Homo sapiens: one gene and its partners. The protein of the gene in region 1 interacts with the protein of each later gene in a pairwise test. Each region holds a gene or a part of one and is shown on either strand. Other genes may lie near its edges.

What was found.
Region 2: the proteins of PPP3R2 (region 1) and PDGFRL interact in a two-hybrid assay, tested with the Homo sapiens proteins (one large-scale study listed by BioGRID and IntAct).
Region 3: the proteins of PPP3R2 (region 1) and MLH3 interact in a two-hybrid assay, tested with the Homo sapiens proteins (one large-scale study listed by BioGRID and IntAct).
Region 4: the proteins of PPP3R2 (region 1) and DLC1 interact in a two-hybrid assay, tested with the Homo sapiens proteins (one large-scale study listed by BioGRID and IntAct).
Region 5: the proteins of PPP3R2 (region 1) and PTPRJ interact in a two-hybrid assay, tested with the Homo sapiens proteins (one large-scale study listed by BioGRID and IntAct).

What each region holds. Positions count from the first base shown.
Region 1 is NC_000009.12:101,592,170-101,596,298, reverse strand, and holds the start of PPP3R2 (calcineurin subunit B type 2), read left to right. Parts: upstream 1-1,329; 5' UTR 1,330-1,377; coding exon 1,378-1,890; 3' UTR 1,891-4,129. UniProt on the Homo sapiens protein: Regulatory subunit of calcineurin, a calcium-dependent, calmodulin stimulated protein phosphatase. Confers calcium sensitivity.
Region 2 is NC_000008.11:17,587,213-17,590,734, reverse strand, and holds part of PDGFRL (platelet-derived growth factor receptor-like protein precursor), read right to left. Parts: intron 1,268-3,522; coding exon 970-1,267; intron 1-969.
Region 3 is NC_000014.9:75,037,956-75,041,477, reverse strand, and holds part of MLH3 (DNA mismatch repair protein Mlh3), read left to right. Parts: intron 1-1,453; coding exon of another isoform or gene 1,454-1,462; coding exon 1,463-1,567; intron 1,568-3,065; coding exon 3,066-3,138; intron 3,139-3,522. UniProt on the Homo sapiens protein: Probably involved in the repair of mismatches in DNA.
Region 4 is NC_000008.11:13,102,352-13,105,873, reverse strand, and holds part of DLC1 (rho GTPase-activating protein 7), read left to right. Parts: intron 1-3,020; coding exon 3,021-3,084; intron 3,085-3,522. UniProt on the Homo sapiens protein: Functions as a GTPase-activating protein for the small GTPases RHOA, RHOB, RHOC and CDC42, terminating their downstream signaling.
Region 5 is NC_000011.10:48,127,041-48,130,562, forward strand, and holds part of PTPRJ (receptor-type tyrosine-protein phosphatase eta isoform 1 precursor), read left to right. Parts: intron 1-739; coding exon 740-1,003; intron 1,004-3,418; coding exon 3,419-3,522. UniProt on the Homo sapiens protein: Tyrosine phosphatase which dephosphorylates or contributes to the dephosphorylation of CTNND1, FLT3, PDGFRB, MET, KDR, LYN, SRC, MAPK1, MAPK3, EGFR, TJP1, OCLN, PIK3R1 and PIK3R2. Plays a role in cell adhesion, migration, proliferation and differentiation.

The DNA of each region.
Region 1 (4,129 bases):
CCCATAATCAGCTTTAAAACATATCCATGGATTATCATTTGTTTATAGAGGAAAGTAAAATGGCCAGACTTAATGATAAGGTGATCAGTGGCTTAGTTTTGCTAGTTCCAGCATGGTTATCTTTAGACTGATATTTTGGCTGAACTATAGAACACAGAACTTGCCAACATTTTTTAAAGCGAAGGAGTGTTTGCATCTTTCAGTTTGATGTAGTGGCCTGAGGTTCCCCCAAGTCCCTTTGAACTGTTTGCTCTTGAACCACATTTGTTTCTTATGCATTTGGAGTAATTGATGCGCTCCGAAAGGAAGAAGGAATAAGAGGGAGCATGTGAGATTAGTCTTCAACAGAAAGAACAAATCTAGTTGAAACAAAAGGAGAAAAGTGAGATCATCCAGAGGCGACTGTCACTCTCAACACACACAAAAGGCTTCTTTGGGCACATTGCAGACCTTCCCCCAAGGTATTCTGCAGAATAGCCGCCAGGCACCAACAACAAAGATGTGACTCGGGCATGAGATGATGGATAAGAGGGAACAGAGTAACAGAGGTTGTGTTCTTGAGACCTGTGTCATCTTGAAAAACGCCCTGAATTCAGCATTGTTTATATTCCTCGGGAATATGTTAGTGCCTGTAGGTGATCCATGTAAGAAATTCTGCGCGGTATCTGCCTGGTCTCTTACAAACACTCTGAATCCTACGTCCTGAAAAAGGTACAGAAGGATGTCAATCCCGGCTTCCCCTCCCAGGGAATCGTGGAAAACATACTATATCAATGCCTTGATGTGTCACCTTGTTTCATCCTTACACTAGGTCTGTAAAGCAAGTATACAGTGTCCTTGGTTGCAGTTCAGTCATTCGGCGTATATTTATTAAGCACATATTGCCTGTGAAGCACTGTGCTTCTGGGATACTGCAGCGAATAACACAGGTGCGATCCCTTCTCCTTTGGGGTTTACTTTCTCAGAGAAAAAAAAAAAAGAAATAAGTAGATAAAATAATTGCCAGGGAAATTGGGGTTATCATGGAAAGGTACAAGGAGTTTGAGAGAAGGAAAAAGAGAAGGGGCAGCCCAGCTTTCCACCTCTGCCTCTCCCGGGCACCCCCAGGCTCCATTCTCTCCTCCCTATACTCCTGCCCAGACAGCACCCACCTCCCCTTCCGCCCCCTTTTCCCTCCTTCTTTCCCTCCTCTCTCCGCTCCCTCTCTGACCTGCCGCCCCTCCCTCCGCTCCCCTGCCCTTTTGCTCGACCAGGGCCCCCGGGAGCCCTCTACCCCCACCCCATGGCCCAACCGTCCGGGCACGAGCCCCGCCCGAGCTCACCGCCCCTGCTCCCCTCTCCGACCCTTTGAGCCGTGGCCGTTGCCAGATGTCCACAATGGGAAACGAGGCCAGTTACCCGGCGGAGATGTGCTCCCACTTTGACAATGATGAAATTAAAAGGCTGGGCAGGAGGTTTAAGAAGTTGGACTTGGACAAATCAGGGTCTCTGAGCGTGGAGGAGTTCATGTCCCTGCCGGAGCTGCGCCACAACCCGTTGGTGCGGCGAGTGATCGACGTCTTCGACACCGACGGTGATGGAGAAGTGGACTTCAAGGAATTCATCCTGGGGACCTCCCAGTTCAGCGTCAAGGGCGACGAGGAGCAGAAGTTGAGGTTTGCGTTCAGCATTTACGACATGGATAAAGATGGCTACATTTCCAACGGGGAGCTCTTCCAGGTGCTGAAGATGATGGTGGGCAACAACCTGACGGACTGGCAGCTCCAGCAGCTGGTCGACAAAACCATCATCATCCTGGACAAGGATGGCGATGGGAAGATATCCTTTGAGGAATTCAGTGCTGTGGTCAGAGACCTGGAGATCCACAAGAAGCTGGTCCTCATCGTATGAGCCTTTTTCTTACAAGCACCACCCAACAACTTCTGCTTTCTTCCCTATCTCTTTCAAGATTTGCTCAAGACGTCCAACTGTCTCTCTGACTTATCTGGAAGTATTTCTTTTTGTGAAGCCATATGTCCTAACAGGAGCTTCATCACCAACTCAGTGCTATTAATTCTCCTTCTCTGAATGACTCAGGGTACCCTATAGGGGGAAGAGCAAGTCAAATGAGCATAGTGGGGAAAGAAAAGGAAATGGCTTTTATAAACATCTTTTACTTTGTTTTGATTCAAAGACCAAACTAGAACTTTAAAAGTTCAAAAATAAGAAAGTATACATTTTTGCTGTTATTTCTCATCATTTTGTATATGGGAGGAAATTTATAATTTGCATGGGTGTTAGGTGAACTGTTTTCATTTGCTTGTGTTCAGATATCTTGCCAGATTGTTAACTTCCTATTGTAGCAACAGGGACAAATATATTTGTCTTTGCTGGGCATCTCGTAATCACTTTTCTTAGGGGACAGAATCCCATCTTTTCCTTCGGCAGATTGCAGCCCCATTCCCCACAATGCATCCAGAAATCGCTGTGCATGTTTGAGGGGTAGGAGTTCATTTGGCCTCCTCCTGACTTGTTGCTCCAGCTCCTGAACAGAAACTAGCTTCAGGGCTCTTATAGGAAATGCTAAGCCTGGACTAAGTGCCCAGCTCAGCCATCATCCTCATTAGCAGTGGGTTTCCAGGGTTGGCAGCCCACACCAGCATTAATTTCAATGAAGGGGACCTCCAGCTAAATAGGGCAAGCAAAGTGTTCTCCCAGAAAGTGCTCTCACCTCCGACACTGGTCCCTACCCCCAGGTGGAGACAATGAGACATTTAGTTAGTTGTCCTACGGAGGAGAGGCAGTAGAGTCAGGCTGCAGTGGAATCTCCCTAGGATGCCAAAGTGGCATTATGTCTGTTGCTCACAGATGCAGAGACTGACAATTGTGTCTCCACAGCAGAGGTGGATGCTAGCTACACCAGCTATGCTGATTTTGAAAATCAGATCTGAGGCCTAGAAGAGAAACTGAGAGCTCTCTCATTCCAGGAAGCCTTTTCCCTAGTGGAACATTCAGTGCAGAAGTCCTCACACACTAACAGATCTCCACCATTGGGTGAGCCGGAGCCTGTGGTTCCAGGGGAGATCCAGAATGCATGTGTCTCTTCCCACGCATTTATGTCATGTTGGTAGCTTTAGATCAGCCATGGTGAGAAAAGAACAAAAGCTTTTAGTTGTTTTTGTTTTGTTTTGGAGAATTTGTTTACCAGTAAATACATCACTGCCTGTACCCCAAATGTTACCAGCTCCCTGAGGTGTCCCACATACTATTGTGAGTTCTCAGAGCATGAACTGTCCTCAGAAGAGCAGGGCTAGGACTTGTCCCAGCATCTGTGCCTCCATACCAATCCTCTTTCTCACAGAGAACCACTTCCCATATAAGATGCTTAAGGCTCTCAAAACAGCAGAACAATGAAACATACTCTCCCTACACTTGCTTAGCCAAGAGATACCACTCAGGTAACTTTTTTCAGGACATGGAAGATCTGTTTCAAGGAGATTTACTGCTATTTTATTTGGAAGAAGCTGGCAACTGGTCTTGACCAAAATAGAAAAAAAAAAAAAAAGTCCACAAATTTAATCACTTGTAGGGAACCCATCTATCAAGGTACCCTACCATATACTTTTGTATTTAATAGATTACTTAGAAACCACAAAAATAGGAATCCTTACCCCTTCAATTCCTGTTCAACCCTAAAAACTGTGATAAACGCTCCCAACCCTGTGGTGATCAGGGTTATGTAATGTTCAAAGATTCAGACACACCTGGGTTTGGATTCAGTTGCAACTGGGTTGTTATCACACTCACTTCTTTTTAGCTGTGTGAGCATGAATAATTTACTTAGCCTCTCTGTGTCTTTCCACCTAATTAAAGAGGATCCACCCCAGGGTTATTTTGAGGATTCAAAAAGGCATGCAACACACCTGGAGCACAATTCCACTTTCATTCAACTAATTCCCTTCCCTTCCCCCTTCTTCCCCTTCTACAAGATCAATATGTAAAGGAGACATGAGGCTTACTGGTTGCTTTTGAACACTTACTTAGTTCTTAGCTACACCCACTCTAAAATTAACTGGACATTAGTGTACAGCCCATGTCCAAGCCCAGAGAGAAAACAATGGGAACAATTTCAAGGTCCTCACCACTCCTT
Region 2 (3,522 bases), on another chromosome or scaffold:
GTATGATTTTTTTTTATTTTTTTGAGACGGAGTTTCACTCTGTCACCCAGGCTGGAGTGCGGTGGTACGAACTCGGCTCACTGTAACCTCTGCATCCCGGGTTCAAGCGACTCTTCTGCCTCAGCTCTGCCTGAGTAACTGGAATTGCAGGTGCATGCTACCACATCTGGCTAATTTATATTTCTTGTAGAGACGGGGTTTCACCATGTTGGCCAGGCTAATCTCCAACTCCTGGCCTCAAGTGATCTGCCTGCTTTGGCCTCCCAAAGGGCTGGGATTACAGGCATGAGCCACTGCACCTGGCCACACAATATGAATTTTTAAACATCCATCTCTATGCATAATAGTTTTCTATAACATTTTGGTTTCCCATAAAATTCCACACATCATACATTTTCATAGAAAATTGTCATATGGTTTTGTCACATGGTTTCCTGTAAAATTTCACTCTTTCAGCAAATGTTGGTAGGATTTGCAATTTTTTTTTTTTTTTTTTTTGAGATGGAGTCTCGCTCTCTGTCACCCAGGCTGGATGGAGTGCACTGGCACTATCTCGGCTCAATGCAAGCTCCACCTCCCAGGTTCGCACCATTCTCCTGCCTCAGCCTCCTGAGTAGCTGGGACTACAGGCACCTGCCACCACGCCCAGCTAATTTTCTGTATTTTTAATAGAGACGGGATTTCACCGGGTTAGCCAGGATAGCCTCGATCTCCTGACCTCGTGATCCGCCCACCTCGGCCTCCCAAAGTGCTGGGATTACAGGCATGAGCCACCGCACCCGGCCTGCAATTGTTATTAACTGGGTAAAGAAATAAAATCTGTGACTTTTGCCCTTTGAGCTTCTATTTTTATGATCTATTAGGGTAAAATGGAACATGTCAGAAACAATGTGTAATAATAGTTAAGAAGGAATTTTGTTAACTATTACAAATCCTCAACCCTACACAGTTTTAAAAAAAAATGCTTACCTGAGGCGAGAATCCTTAAAGGTGTCCAGATACGCAGGGTAGCTCCACCCAATTCTACTCCCTTTACATCGAAGCTCTACAGTTTGCCCCGCCAGCAGACTCAGGGTAGCGGCGGGTTTCTGGAAGCGACCTTTATCCAGCACTTGCATCATGATAGACTGCGTCTTTGGTGCTGAATTGGCTGAGTCCCTGTCCTTCATTTTAGGAATTTTGGGCTTCACCTTCTTGTTGGTAGGTTTGATTCTATTCTCTCCTGGTTCTTTTGGACGCTTGTTCTTGGGAAGGTGTTGGCCAGTAACTGCAAAACGTAAGGAGAGAGAAATGCGCTGTAGTAATGACATTTTTGGAATATTTGAGGCCAATAACTTTTTTTTTTTTTTGAGACAGATTCTTACTCTATTGCCCAGGTTGGAGGGCAGTGGCATAATCTCAGCTCACTGCAACCTCCACCTCCCAGGTTCAAGTGATTCTCTTGCCTGAGCACCCTGAGTAGCTGAGATTACAGGTGCCCGCCGCCACACCCAACTCATTTTTGTATTTTTAGTAGAGACATGGAGACAGGGTCTCAGCACGTTGGTCAGGCTGGTCTCGAAGTCCTGACCTCAGGTGATCCACCTGCCTTGGCCTCCCAAAGTGCTGGGATTACAGGAGTGAGCCACCATGCCCAGCCCTCATAGCTTTTAGGTAACTCTAGAGAAGATAACTTTTTAATCCTCCCCTCCTCATATGTCAATATTGTTTTCAGTAAAAGTCATGTAATTATCATCTTTTGATTAATTTTAAAACATTAAAAAATATTTCAGCTCCAAAGATATTATTCAAATTCAGCAAAACAGTTCATGTATGAGCTAAAATTTGCCCTTAGAAAACAAAAATATTACTGCCTGTAGTTCACACCGTCTCATAGTCTCCAAGCAGTCACACAAAACAGCAGAACTGAAGCCATTCAAGGCTGTTTGTTTACTTTGCAGTCTATATGTTGTCACCATTCATTTTGATTCTACTGTTTAAACACAGAAATCTGTAGCTCCACAGAGACTGGGGACACAAACTGTGCTGAAAGTGCACGCAAAATATTTTGTGTTTAACGTTAGAAACGGAATCTCACTCTGTCACCCAGGCTGGAATGCAATGGCATGATCCTAGCTCACTGTAGCCTTGAACTCCTGGGCTCAAGTGATCCTCCTGCCTCAGCCTCCTGAGTAGCTAGGCCTACACATATGTGAGACCATGCTGAGCTAATTTTTTTTTTTTAAAGATGGGGCCTTGCTATGTTGCCCAAGCTGGTCTCAAACTCCTGGCCTCAAGCAACCCTCCCACGTAGGCCTCCCAAAGTGCTGCAATTATAGGTGTGAGCCACTCTGCCCAGCCAAGATTTTGAACCACAGTGAACTTTCTCTCAAAACAAATGGTAAAGCAGACATTACATTTGTCAGGGGCTGGCGATGTCTAGGTAGAATAAAATGCTTATTATTAAAGAGTAAATATTATGTGTATACTAATCTGAAGCTTACATATAAATTATCAAAACTCAACTGTAACTGTAGCAACGATTTAGAATTTCACCAACAAAATGTCTCTGGGGAAGGAGTATTTTATCACCAACATTGTTGAGAGTTGCTGGCAAATAGTGATAATAAAAAGCTAACTGACTTTAAGTTGCTTTTGTTGTCATTTTTGCCTTCTCTATAAGTAAGGCACCCTTATTGCCTGCATCCAGGGAAGAGTGCCCCCACTGTTCTGCCTGTGGTGGGCCACCGGACTCTAAAAATCTCAGCTAAGCCCCTTGCAGCCACACAGTTGTGTCCACTCAACAAGAATGAATAGGGGACTGTAGGCCAGGTGTGGTGGCTCATGCCTGTAATCCCAGCATTTTGGGAGGCCAACGCAGGTGGATCAGTTGAGGTCAGAAGTTTGAGACCAGCCTGGGCAACATGGCGAAACCCCATCTCTACTAAAAATACAAAATTAGCCAGGCATGGTGGCGCATGCCTGTAATCCCAGCTACCACTCGGGAGGCTGAGGCACAAGAACTGCTTGAACCCGGGAGGCGGAGGTTACAGTGAGCCGAGATCACACCACTGCACTCCAATGCCTGGAGACTGAGACTGAGACCGAGACTTGAGCCCACAAGTCCGAGTTTATGATGAGCTATGATTGTACCACTGCACTGCAGTCTGGGTGACAGAGCAAGACTCTCTCTCAAAAAAAGAAAGAAAGAAAGAAAGAAAAGCCCACCATTATCATGCCCAAGAAATCTGTGCCCCATAAATACTTTAATGCCTGTGAAATTAATGAACCTCTGGATTAAGGTCTAATTTGGTATTCTGTGTATCATGTAACAGGAATTCAAGCTACCAGAAATGACAATAACCATCTGTAAATCCTATGGAATTTAGACAAACAGAGCTACTTGTCTGATCCTTCTAAGCTATCACATCTTGTGTATCTATGTTACTCAGGAACATGAGATTATCTGATTTTGGAGATTATGCATCCAAATATTTGCTATTATCTATGCAAAATAATTTGACCTTTTGACCAAATAGCCCC
Region 3 (3,522 bases), on another chromosome or scaffold:
TCCCAGGTTCAAGCAATTCTCCTGCCTCAGTCTCTCGAGCAGCTGGGATTACAGGCACCTGCCACCACGCCCAGCGAATTTTGTATTTTTAGTAGAGATGGGGTTTCTCCATATTGGTCAGGCTGGTCTCTAACTCCCAACCTCAGGTGATCTGCCCGCCTCAGCCTCCCAAAGTCCTGGGATTACAGGTGTGAGCCATCACGCCCAGCCTTTCTTTGCCTGTTATTTTAAACTTTGAGTTTCAAGATGGGTACAGTGGCATGCACTTATAGTCTCAGCTACTCAGGAGGCTGAGGTGGGAGGATCACTTGAGGCCAGAAGTTCAAGGCTATATAGTGTGCTGATTGCACCTGTGACTAGCCACTGCACACTATAGCCTGGGCAACACAGTGAGACTCCATCTCTTAAAAAATAAGTAAATTAGTTAAAAATAAAATTTGAATTTTATTTAAGCTGGGTATGGGCATGCAAGACTATATTAATTTGTAATTATGATTGGAAACTGGGCATATTTCCAAATTATGTATTTGGAAATTACTGTTTAATGTAGAGGGGAGAAATAAAATTTATAGCATTTGGGAACTCAGGCATTTTGGATTAAACATGTATAATCAATGTGAGAACAGTGAATGTGTTTACCACTCTCAGAAACCCTGACTTGTAGCTTTGGCACAGTATTCAGGGTGGTGATAATGAAATTGTTATCATTAGATAAAGCCACACATCTTCTACTGGAGGAACAGTTCCTCATTGGCCCCGCATGGATGTTCTCTCCTCAGTGTATTTTCACAGAATGTACTGTGCATGTTATAAACAGGGTGTATAATAGATGAGCATTTGTTTACCAGTTCTTTCCTCAAGATATCATTTGAGGACTTGATCATGGAACATAGACAAATTGTTGTTGTGAAACAATTTTTTTTGTTTTGTCAGTAATTTTGTTTATAAGCAAAAATTTTTATGTAAGACTCATTATTCATAAATTCTTTTGAATTTTTTTTTTTTTTTTTTTTTTTTTTTTTTTTTTTGTGACAGAGTCTTGCTGTGTCGCCCAGGCTGAAGTGCAGTGGCGTGATCTCAGCTCACTGCAAGCTCCGCCTCCCGGGTTCACACCATTCTCCTGCCTCAGTCTCCCAAGTAGCTGGGACTAAAGGCGCCTGCCGCCACGCCCAGCTAATTTTTTGTATTTTTTAGTAGAGATGGGGTTTCACCATGTTAGCCAGGATGGTCTCGATCTCCTGACCTCGTGATCTGCCCGCCTCAGCCTCCCAAAGTGCTGAGATTACAGGTGTGAGCCACCACGCCCGGCCGATTCTTTTGAATTTCTATAAATTCCCTGAATTAAACCCACCTCTAGTAGGCTAAATAAAAATGAATGCTTTTAAAGCACTCTGATATCTTTGGTAAAACAATTCTGACACAAAAATTAAAATTTCAATTATATTTTGCTGAGTCTTTCTAGGTTGCTGTTGATGTAAGCAGTGGCCAGGCTGAGAGCTTAGCAGTTAAAATTCACAACATCTTGTATCCCTATCGTTTCACCAAAGGAATGATTCATTCAATGCAGGTAAAAGATTAACTTCAAAATCTCATAAATATATATATATATATATATATATATATATATATATGGCCTAACTCTTCTAAAATTTGATTTATTTAATGATATAGACCACCTTGGTCAAGGCACGTGTGTGTGTGTGTGTGTGTGTGTGTGTTCTTACTAGAACTTTTATCATCAGAAGAAAAAGCAAGGGATTAATTATAATTACAAAGAAAGAAATATCTTTAGTAGTGTAAGTAGGTTTGGAGGGAATGAATTATGGATTCAGGCTGACAGTTTCAAGGATTCTCAAGGTTCTCCTGCAGAAGATTATATATTGACTTTATATTTGGCAATAATTTATAAATCAAAGTCCTTTAGTGACCTTGTCCTTAAGTGTGCAACAGTGCCCTTTTAGAAATTACCTTCTATTGTGTGAGCCTACACAGGTTTGGGAAAGCCCATATTGAGAAGTCATTTCACAAAAGGGACCCTTTGTCTGATCTGCTTTTCTATTTTGCCTTGTGTTTACCACCATGGCTGTCTTATTCCCTTTGTTTTCAGTACGGAAACAAATTAGGAGGCTAACAAATTTGGGTAAACTCCTAACCTGGCATTGACCTGGTACCAGAGCAGGCAAGCAGTTGATCCAGAAATAGACCCTGGGGCAGTGGTATAGGCTCGGGGGTATTGGAGAGCCTCAAGTACCTAGACAGAGAGGAACCACCAAGGTCTAAAGCCACCAGTGGCTTTTAACTTACTTCTTTAATAGACTAGCAGCCGGGCGCGCTGGCTCACGCCTGTAATCCCAGCACTTTGGGAGGCCGAGGTGGGTGGATCATGAGGTCAGGAGTTCGAGACCATCCTGGCTAACACGGTGAAACCCCGTCTCTACTAAAAATACAAAAAATTAGCTGGGCGTGGTGGCGGGCACCTGTACTCCCAGCTACTCGGGAGGCTGAGGCAGGAGAATGGCATGGAGGCAGGAGAATGGCATGAACCCAGGAGGCAGAGCTTGCAGTGAGCCGAGATCACACCATTGCACTCCAGCCTGGGTGACAAAGTGAGACTCCGTCTCAAAAAAAAAAAAATTAAAAATAAATAAAAATAAAAATAGACTAGTTTCTCCATAATCGTTTTCCTTGCTTTCATATAAATTTTAAAAATTTATTTCAGCCTGTATGTTAGCAATCTCTGGTCACATTACCTATTCTCAAGAGTCACTCTGTTGGGAACATCTCAGGCCTTCTCTAAAGTATTGCTAGCACACCACTCTGAGACGTGGGAGTCTGTCTTCCCCTGTCGCCTCCCTCCCCTTACATCTTCTGATCAACTCCACCTGCCCATTCTTTCATCCTTCCTAGTGACTTTTTCTGGTTCATCAGAACCTTACCCAGTCTCAAAGAAAGGAGTGTGATAAGGCAAACAACTCTAAATAAAATACAGTTCTGTATCTTTCTATGCAAATAAGCCTTTGTTAATTTTTATTTAGTGTTGTACCACTTATTTGAATGTCTGACAGGTTCTCCAGCAAGTAGATAACAAGTTTATTGCCTGTTTGATGAGCACTAAGACTGAAGAGAATGGCGAGGCAGGTAAGAATGGAGTTTAGCCTGAATGATTAACCAGCTGGTCTTCTTGTAACCTTTTTTTAATGATTATTTTTGGTATATAATATAGTTTCAATGATTTGGATGGATTAGGGAAAGCCAATCTAAAACTAAGAATATTATGAAGGCTGGGTGCGGTGGCTCACACCTGTAATCCCAACACTTTGGGAGGTGAGGCAGGTGGATGGCTTGAGGCCAGGAGTTCAGGACCAGCCTGAGCAACATGGCAAAACCCCGTCTCTACTAAAAATACAAAAATTAGCTGGGCATGGTGGTGTGCACCTGTAGTCCCAGCTACTCAGGAGGCTAAGGCACAAGAATCGCTTGAACTTGGGAGGCAGAGGATGTAGTGAGCCGAGATTGCGCTAT
Region 4 (3,522 bases), on another chromosome or scaffold:
GGGTGCAGTGGCTCATGCCTGTGATCCTAGCACTTTGGGAGGCCGAGATGAGCGGATTGCCTGAGCTCAGGAGGTCGAGACCAGCCGGGCAACATGGCAAACCCCCACTTCTACTAAAAATACAAAAAATTAGCTGGGCCTGGTGGCGGGCACCTGTAGTCCCAGCTGCTCAGGAGGCTGAGGCATGAGAATTGCTTGAAACGGGGAGGCGGAGGTTGCAGTGAGCCACTGCACTCCAGCCTGGGCAATAGAGCAAGACTGTCTCCAAAAAAAAAAAAAAAGAAGAAAAAGAAAGGAACCTAGAAGTTACTGGGTTTGAGAGCCACCATGTTTTAATCGTGTGGACTTAGACAAGATCTGTGACCTCCCTGAGCCCCATTTCCTCATCTGTAAAATCTAGGTTAATCATAATATCTGTACCATAGGGTCGTTGGGAAGATGAAGTCATATATAGGAAGTGCCTAGCATAGTGCCTGGCCCGCAGTAGGCCTCGTTTGTGTAGCTGGAACTATGATTTGATATCAGTACTGTCTCTGTAAGGAAATAAGGTCCCAGCAGAGTACATTCTTTGGGGGTCCTCCAGGACAAATGAAAACCACAGAAACCCTAGGGTATAACTCTGGGCTTTAGGTCTGTAATGCCATTAGCTGGGTGCTACCAACATAAAAAGGTAATGTTGACCTTTATAGAACTGGCCTCCTGGGTCTTTTTAGTTTGACTAAAATCTGGAGTTTGTGAGGCTAAACCCCTCTCCAGCCCCATAGGCCTCTGGCTAGTAAATTTGGTTATAAACACCATTCAACCATTAAAGCCCAAATGAAGTCAAGTGACTATTTGATTACAGGTTTGATTAATGGAACCCAGACCTAAGACTAACTGTAACCATTCCGGATTCTTTAAATCTTGAAAGCATTTGAGAACTAAAACACTGTGGGTGTAAGTCATTTAAGTAATTGATACCCCCAATAGAGGGACCTTATATCCACTCATTTTAAAGTGTGCAGACTTTTTCTTAGTTATTTGTTTTCTTTTCTTCCCCATCAACAGAGAGAACTTTTCTGAACCTAGGCGCTCTGGGCTATCTTTATTTATTCTATAAACAGGCTACCACCTAAGGTATGAAGGCAAAATCGGGCTTATCAGGCAGGCAAAAATGCTTTCTATTCTGTTGCATCAACATTGTTAGGCAAACAGCAAGAACAGGATCAGGAAGATAAAGCCCTGAGGAGGTCTCACGGTTCCCAGGAATTTGTGTGAATTAAATGATCTGATCTTATGAAAATGTAGAATTGCAATTCGTAGGAAAAACTAGAAAACTGGTGATAGCAGATGGCAAACAGACACATTACAGGTTCATTTGAGGAAGACTAAGTGATGATCATCTGGGAGATGGCAGGAAAATTGGGGCCTTGAAGGGCTGTCATTCATAGTTGTACATACCGTTTAGTTCAGCATATTTAAAGTGTTTCTTTTTTCAACTGTTGCATTATTTCTCCATGAGGTTTTGGGTTTTTTTTTTTTTTGTAAGTATTTTATTTTCAACGAAACTAAATTTCCCTAATTTTAAATTGATATTGCTGTTTGGCAGAGGTGAAAGTATTGGTATCAAAATGACAATAGGATGGCTGTTGCAAAAAGAGTCTTACCTGAGTGCTTAATTTTGAACCCGGTAAGATTTGGATCCTTGAAGTTACAGTACGCAAATTCTTTAAATGATCATTTGCCGTGACTATAGCACACATTATATTGTCCTATAACAGGAAGCTGTTCTAAATATTGGATATTAAAGAGGGCTTCAATTTCCATTCTGTGCAAGGACTCTAAAATTTTAGACAGGCTGTCCAAGATTATGATTCATCGGAGATAACTAAAACTAATTTTTTAAATTTGAGTTTTGATTTCAAATACAAGACACTGTTTATTTTGCCAAAAACTCTACTTGGTTCTTTGTTGCTGTTTTGCTGTTTCTATTTCTATGAAAGGAGACATCACAAACTTTTCTTTTCTTTCTTTCTTTTTTTTTTTTTTTTTTTTGAGATGGAGTCTGGCTCTTTTGCCCAGGCTGGAGTGCAGTGGCACAATCTCAGCTCACTACAACCTTCACCTCCCAGGTTCAAGCGATTCTTCCTGCCACAGCCTCCCGAGTAGCTGGCATTACAGGCACCCACGACCATGCCCAGCTAATTTTTGCATTTTTAGTAGAGTTGGGGTTTCGCCATGTTGGACAGGCTGGTCTCAAACTCCTGACTTCAGGTGATCTGCCTGCCTCGGCCTCCCAAAGTGCTGGGATTACAGGCATGAGCCACCGTGCCGAGTCACAAACTTTTCTTTCTTGGCTCCATGTGCGGCAGTCCATAATGGCTCAACCTAAGAGTTATTGGAAGAATGATTTTTCTTAGTAAGAACAACTCATTGAGAGTTGAAGAATCAGAGAGACTTGACAGTATCATAGCTGTGTGCCATTTCACACTAAAATATAAAAATTAAAGTGAAAAACTTACAAAACATAAAGGTATTTATTTATTTATTTATTTATTTATTTATTTATTTATTTATTTATTTTGAGAAGGAGTCTCACTCTGTCGCCCAGGCTGGAGTGCAGTGGCGCTATCTTGGCTCACTGCAATCTCCGCCTCCCGGGTTCACGCCATTCTCCTGCCTCAGCCTCCTGAGTAGCTGGGACTACAGGCGCCCACCACCAGGCCCGGCTTGTTTTTTTGTATTTTTAGTAGAGACGGGGTTTCACCGTGTTAGCCAGGATGGTCTCGCTCTCCTGACCTCGTGATCCACCCGCCTAGGCCTCCCAAAGTGCTGGGATTACAGGCGTGAGCCACCACGCCCGGCCAAGGTATTTTTAAATGACTCACTTTTTAAATAAGTTTCTAATACTCCTCTAGGTATTAGGTATTACTGAGTTTCAAGAAACTCCTTAAATATATGAATTGTTTAAAAACAGGTGTTTATCCACTCATTAGAGAGTGGTTGCCTATCTTTGCTAACGTTATTTCTTTGCTCTATAGGCGTCTAAATACTTTAAACAAATGTGCGGTGATGAAGCTAGAAATTAGTCCTCATCGGAAACGAGTGAGTATACAAATTGCATAATAGAATGAGGGGGAAAAGGGGCAAACAAAAAAGTGAATGATGTGTTTTGTAATAGGTTTTGTTTCTCCAACTCTTAGTTTGTTGTTCCGTAAGCATCTACATCTTGAATGATATCGCCTAGACTTGATAGCCTTATGTAGTTGAAGCCAATAGTTGCAACTAGTCCATTACATTATTTTATCTATTGTTTTTGACCTGATCACATCAGCTATTATTTTGCCTAATTACTAACTCAATGCCTATTACATAATAAAGGGATCATGCTTAAGGAATCCCAGTGGATTTTTGCATTGCTCATAGAGGAAATAAACTGAGGTTTATTTCCAACTCTTCTGTCTTCCCAAATATAACAATAACTGTGCTTCAAAGCTGTAGAGATGAAAGCGAAGGCCGATTTGTGCAATATTGAAGAATAAT
Region 5 (3,522 bases), on another chromosome or scaffold:
CCAGAGCAGGAGGTGATGGAGGAAGGCACTGACTCCTTTCTCCTGTGGCCCTTCAGGGGCCTGCCCATTGGCTCATAGTGGAACCCGGTCACAGCCCATGTGGCAAGACCCCCCATGATGCCTTGCACAAGGTCAGCCTCCTGGGCCCAGAGCAGGTGAGGGAAGGGCAGTGGATATGTCGGGAGGGTGGAGTGGGCAGGTGGTGAATAACTGGCACTCGGGTTATCTTTTCTTGAGGTTAGGATTGCTCTCCAGTTTTATAGGTGAGGAAGCTGAGCTCAAGTGGTTTTCCTGTGGCCCACCTGGGTGTCATAGCAGAGTGAGCCCTGGAACCCAGGCCTGCCTCGTCCTGACTTCTGTGATCTCGGGCGATCACATAGATCGCAGTGTTCGCTCTTGCATCATGTGTGTTTGACAACTTTTCTGGGTGCCCCTGGCCCTAGGGTAAGACATGCATAGAGTCCAAGTCATCATTTAGGTCAAATCTCTAAAGTCAACTTACAAAAAGGAACAAAGAATAACCCTGCAGGTGCCATTGGCCAGGTTGTTTCTTCACCGCCCAATGATGCCTGACTTTGGCTGGGACCGTCATGCTTTCCTAGCCACGGTTGATGGTGCAGAGGAGGAAGGAACACTCCCCCAGGAGAGTTTGCTGGGCTTGACAGCATGCCCTGATGACCTCTCCCTCCCTCTGCCTTGGCCGTTCTGGTTATTTTGAACTCCTCTTGTGTTCTCACAGATGCTATTCAGGTTTTTGACGTCACCGCTGTGAACATCAGTGCCACAAGCCTGACCCTGATCTGGAAAGTCAGCGATAACGAGTCGTCATCTAACTATACCTACAAGATACATGTGGCGGGGGAGACAGATTCTTCCAATCTCAACGTCAGTGAGCCTCGCGCTGTCATCCCCGGACTCCGCTCCAGCACCTTCTACAACATCACAGTGTGTCCTGTCCTAGGTGACATCGAGGGCACGCCGGGCTTCCTCCAAGTGCACACCCGTGAGTTCATGCCTGGCTCTCACCACCCTTTCCTGCTGTCCTGCTCCGTGCCAGGCCCAGACACAGGATGCATGATGTAGTAATGGTGACTGTTGGCTGACCACACGCCAAGCTTCGTGTGACATGCTTTCCTTGCACTGGCACATTGTATGCTCACAACAGCCCTGTGATGTGGTTGGAAGTAGCCTTATTTTATAGATAGGAAGCCAAGGCTGAGAGAGGTGCTAGACAGGTATCACAGCTGGAAAGTGGCAGAGGTGAGATTAAGCCTCTGGTATTTCTCACCTGGAGCCTGCGCTTGTAACTCTCTTTCCAGTGTGGAGGAGACCTAGAGTGAATTGATACAGGGAGACAAAAATGACCTGGTATTCATATCCCCTTGTGTCTTGGGTGCTGACATTATAACGAATCACTGGCACAGCTGTATCTCATCTTTGTTTGTTTAAATGTCCCTTAAAAATAAGATTTTATGCAGCAAATAAAAAGCTTTAGGTTTCAAAGAAGGTCCGATAATGTAAAATAAAACAGTAATGGTGCACTAGTAGTACAGTGGTATAATATTGATTATATACTATTAAACAATAGTAGTGACACCAGCACTGCATTTTGCACTGTGCCATGAGATTTATAGACACTGTAGTGGCCTCCGAGGTAGGTATTGGGGTCCCCTTTTACAGATGAGGAAATGACACCCTGATGGCTGAACAGTTTGCCCAAAGCCACAGAGCTAGTGAGTAGCAGAGCAGGACTTGAACTCAGGGGTGTGTGGCTCTGGACCCAGGCTTATCCCACAAGAATGTCCATTCCTTCGCAGGAAGCACACCTTAGCATTCTTATAGATGTATTTTGGACTGGATCTTTGGGAAAATGAAATATGCTTGCATTTCTTTACCTTTTACTCTTTTACTATTTATTAGTTAGGATTAGGTTCAGCCACGAATAACACCACCAAAAACAACAACAACAAAACCCAAGTATCCGTGGCTTAAACAAGACAGGGGTTTATTTCTCTCTCCTGTAACAGAAGCCCAGTGCTAGGCAGGATGGGGATGATAGAGGTTATCCAAGGCTCAGTTGTATGAAACAGAAACTGTGAGCTATTTTAACCAAAAGGGATTTATCCTGGGAATTGAGGTTTTGCAGAATCATTGGAAGAGCTGGTGTATTAGTTTGCTAGGGCTACCAGAACAAGTACCAAAGGCTGTGTGGCTTGAACAGAAATAGACTTTCTCATAGTTCTGGAGGCTGAAGGTCAAAGATTAAGGCAACGGCAGGTGTGGTTTCTTCTGAGGCCTCCCTCTTGGCTTATAGATGACTGTCTTCTCCCTCACATGGTTGTCCTTAGTCTGCGTGTGCCTATGCCCTCATCTCCCTTTATAAGGACACCAGTCTTGCTGGATTAGGGCCTACCTTCATGACCTCACATTAACTTAATTACCTCTTTGAAGACCCTGTCTCCAAAGACAGCCACATTCTGAGGTCTTGGGGGTTAGGACATAAACATACACATTTGGGGGTGAGGGAGCACAAGTCAGCTCATAACAGTTGAGGAGCAGGCTTTAGGCCTCGCCCCAAGAAATGACTCCTGGACTAAGTCTGCAGAACTGACCCCCTGGAGAGTCACCACCTTGGTCACAGACAGCAGAGGGAGGAATCAGGAAGTCTCTGCTGTAGTTGCGGGATCCAGGGGTCTATGTTCTGAGCTGTGATCCTGGGATCAGGAAGCTGCAGCCACCGCTGAGGTTTTGGTTCTAGAGCCAGGCAGCGTGAGCTCCAGTCATTGCATCCACACTACAGGTATAAGAAGGAGGAAGGGCAGAAGGTTGTGCCCCACCCTTAAAGGACACTTCCTAGAAGTCACCCAGTACCTCTGCTCATGCTTCGTTGAGCAAAACTTAGTCACATTGCAACATCTAGCTCCATGGGAGCTGGGAAATGTGGTCTTTGTTTCCAACAGGTATGCACACACAGGGCTAAAAATCTGGGTGGGTATGATGAAGGGAAAATGGGGGAATGGATTTTGGGGGTCAAGACTGGTCTCTCTCTGCTGTCCCTCCCTGAACAGAGGCTCTGGGAGGCTAGTAATGCATTCGAGATAAAGCAGCCAGTGTGGCCAAGGTTCTCCTCCAGAGCCTGAGCCCTTGACCACAGGAGCTCACGCCTCCTCTCATTTCCTGTGAATGATTGTGTGCAATGTAAGCACAGAGCTTCTGCACTCTCATGATCAAGTGCTCTCTCCATGGCCAGAAACAGCAGTTTCTGAGGGGCTCATGTTGTAGGTGATGATACAAAGAAGACAGAGAGAGGGATCAGGTGTCCTAAGTGTACATTTCATCTCAGTATTTTCTGAGGTGGGGCATCCCTGTCTCCTGGAGAAGTATATTTTTAATCTAGTTGTTTACTTTCTTTGCATAGCCCCTGTTCCAGTTTCTGACTTCCGAGTGACAGTGGTCAGCACGACGGAGATCGGCTTAGCATGGAGCAGCCATGATGCAGAATCATTTCAGATGCATATCACA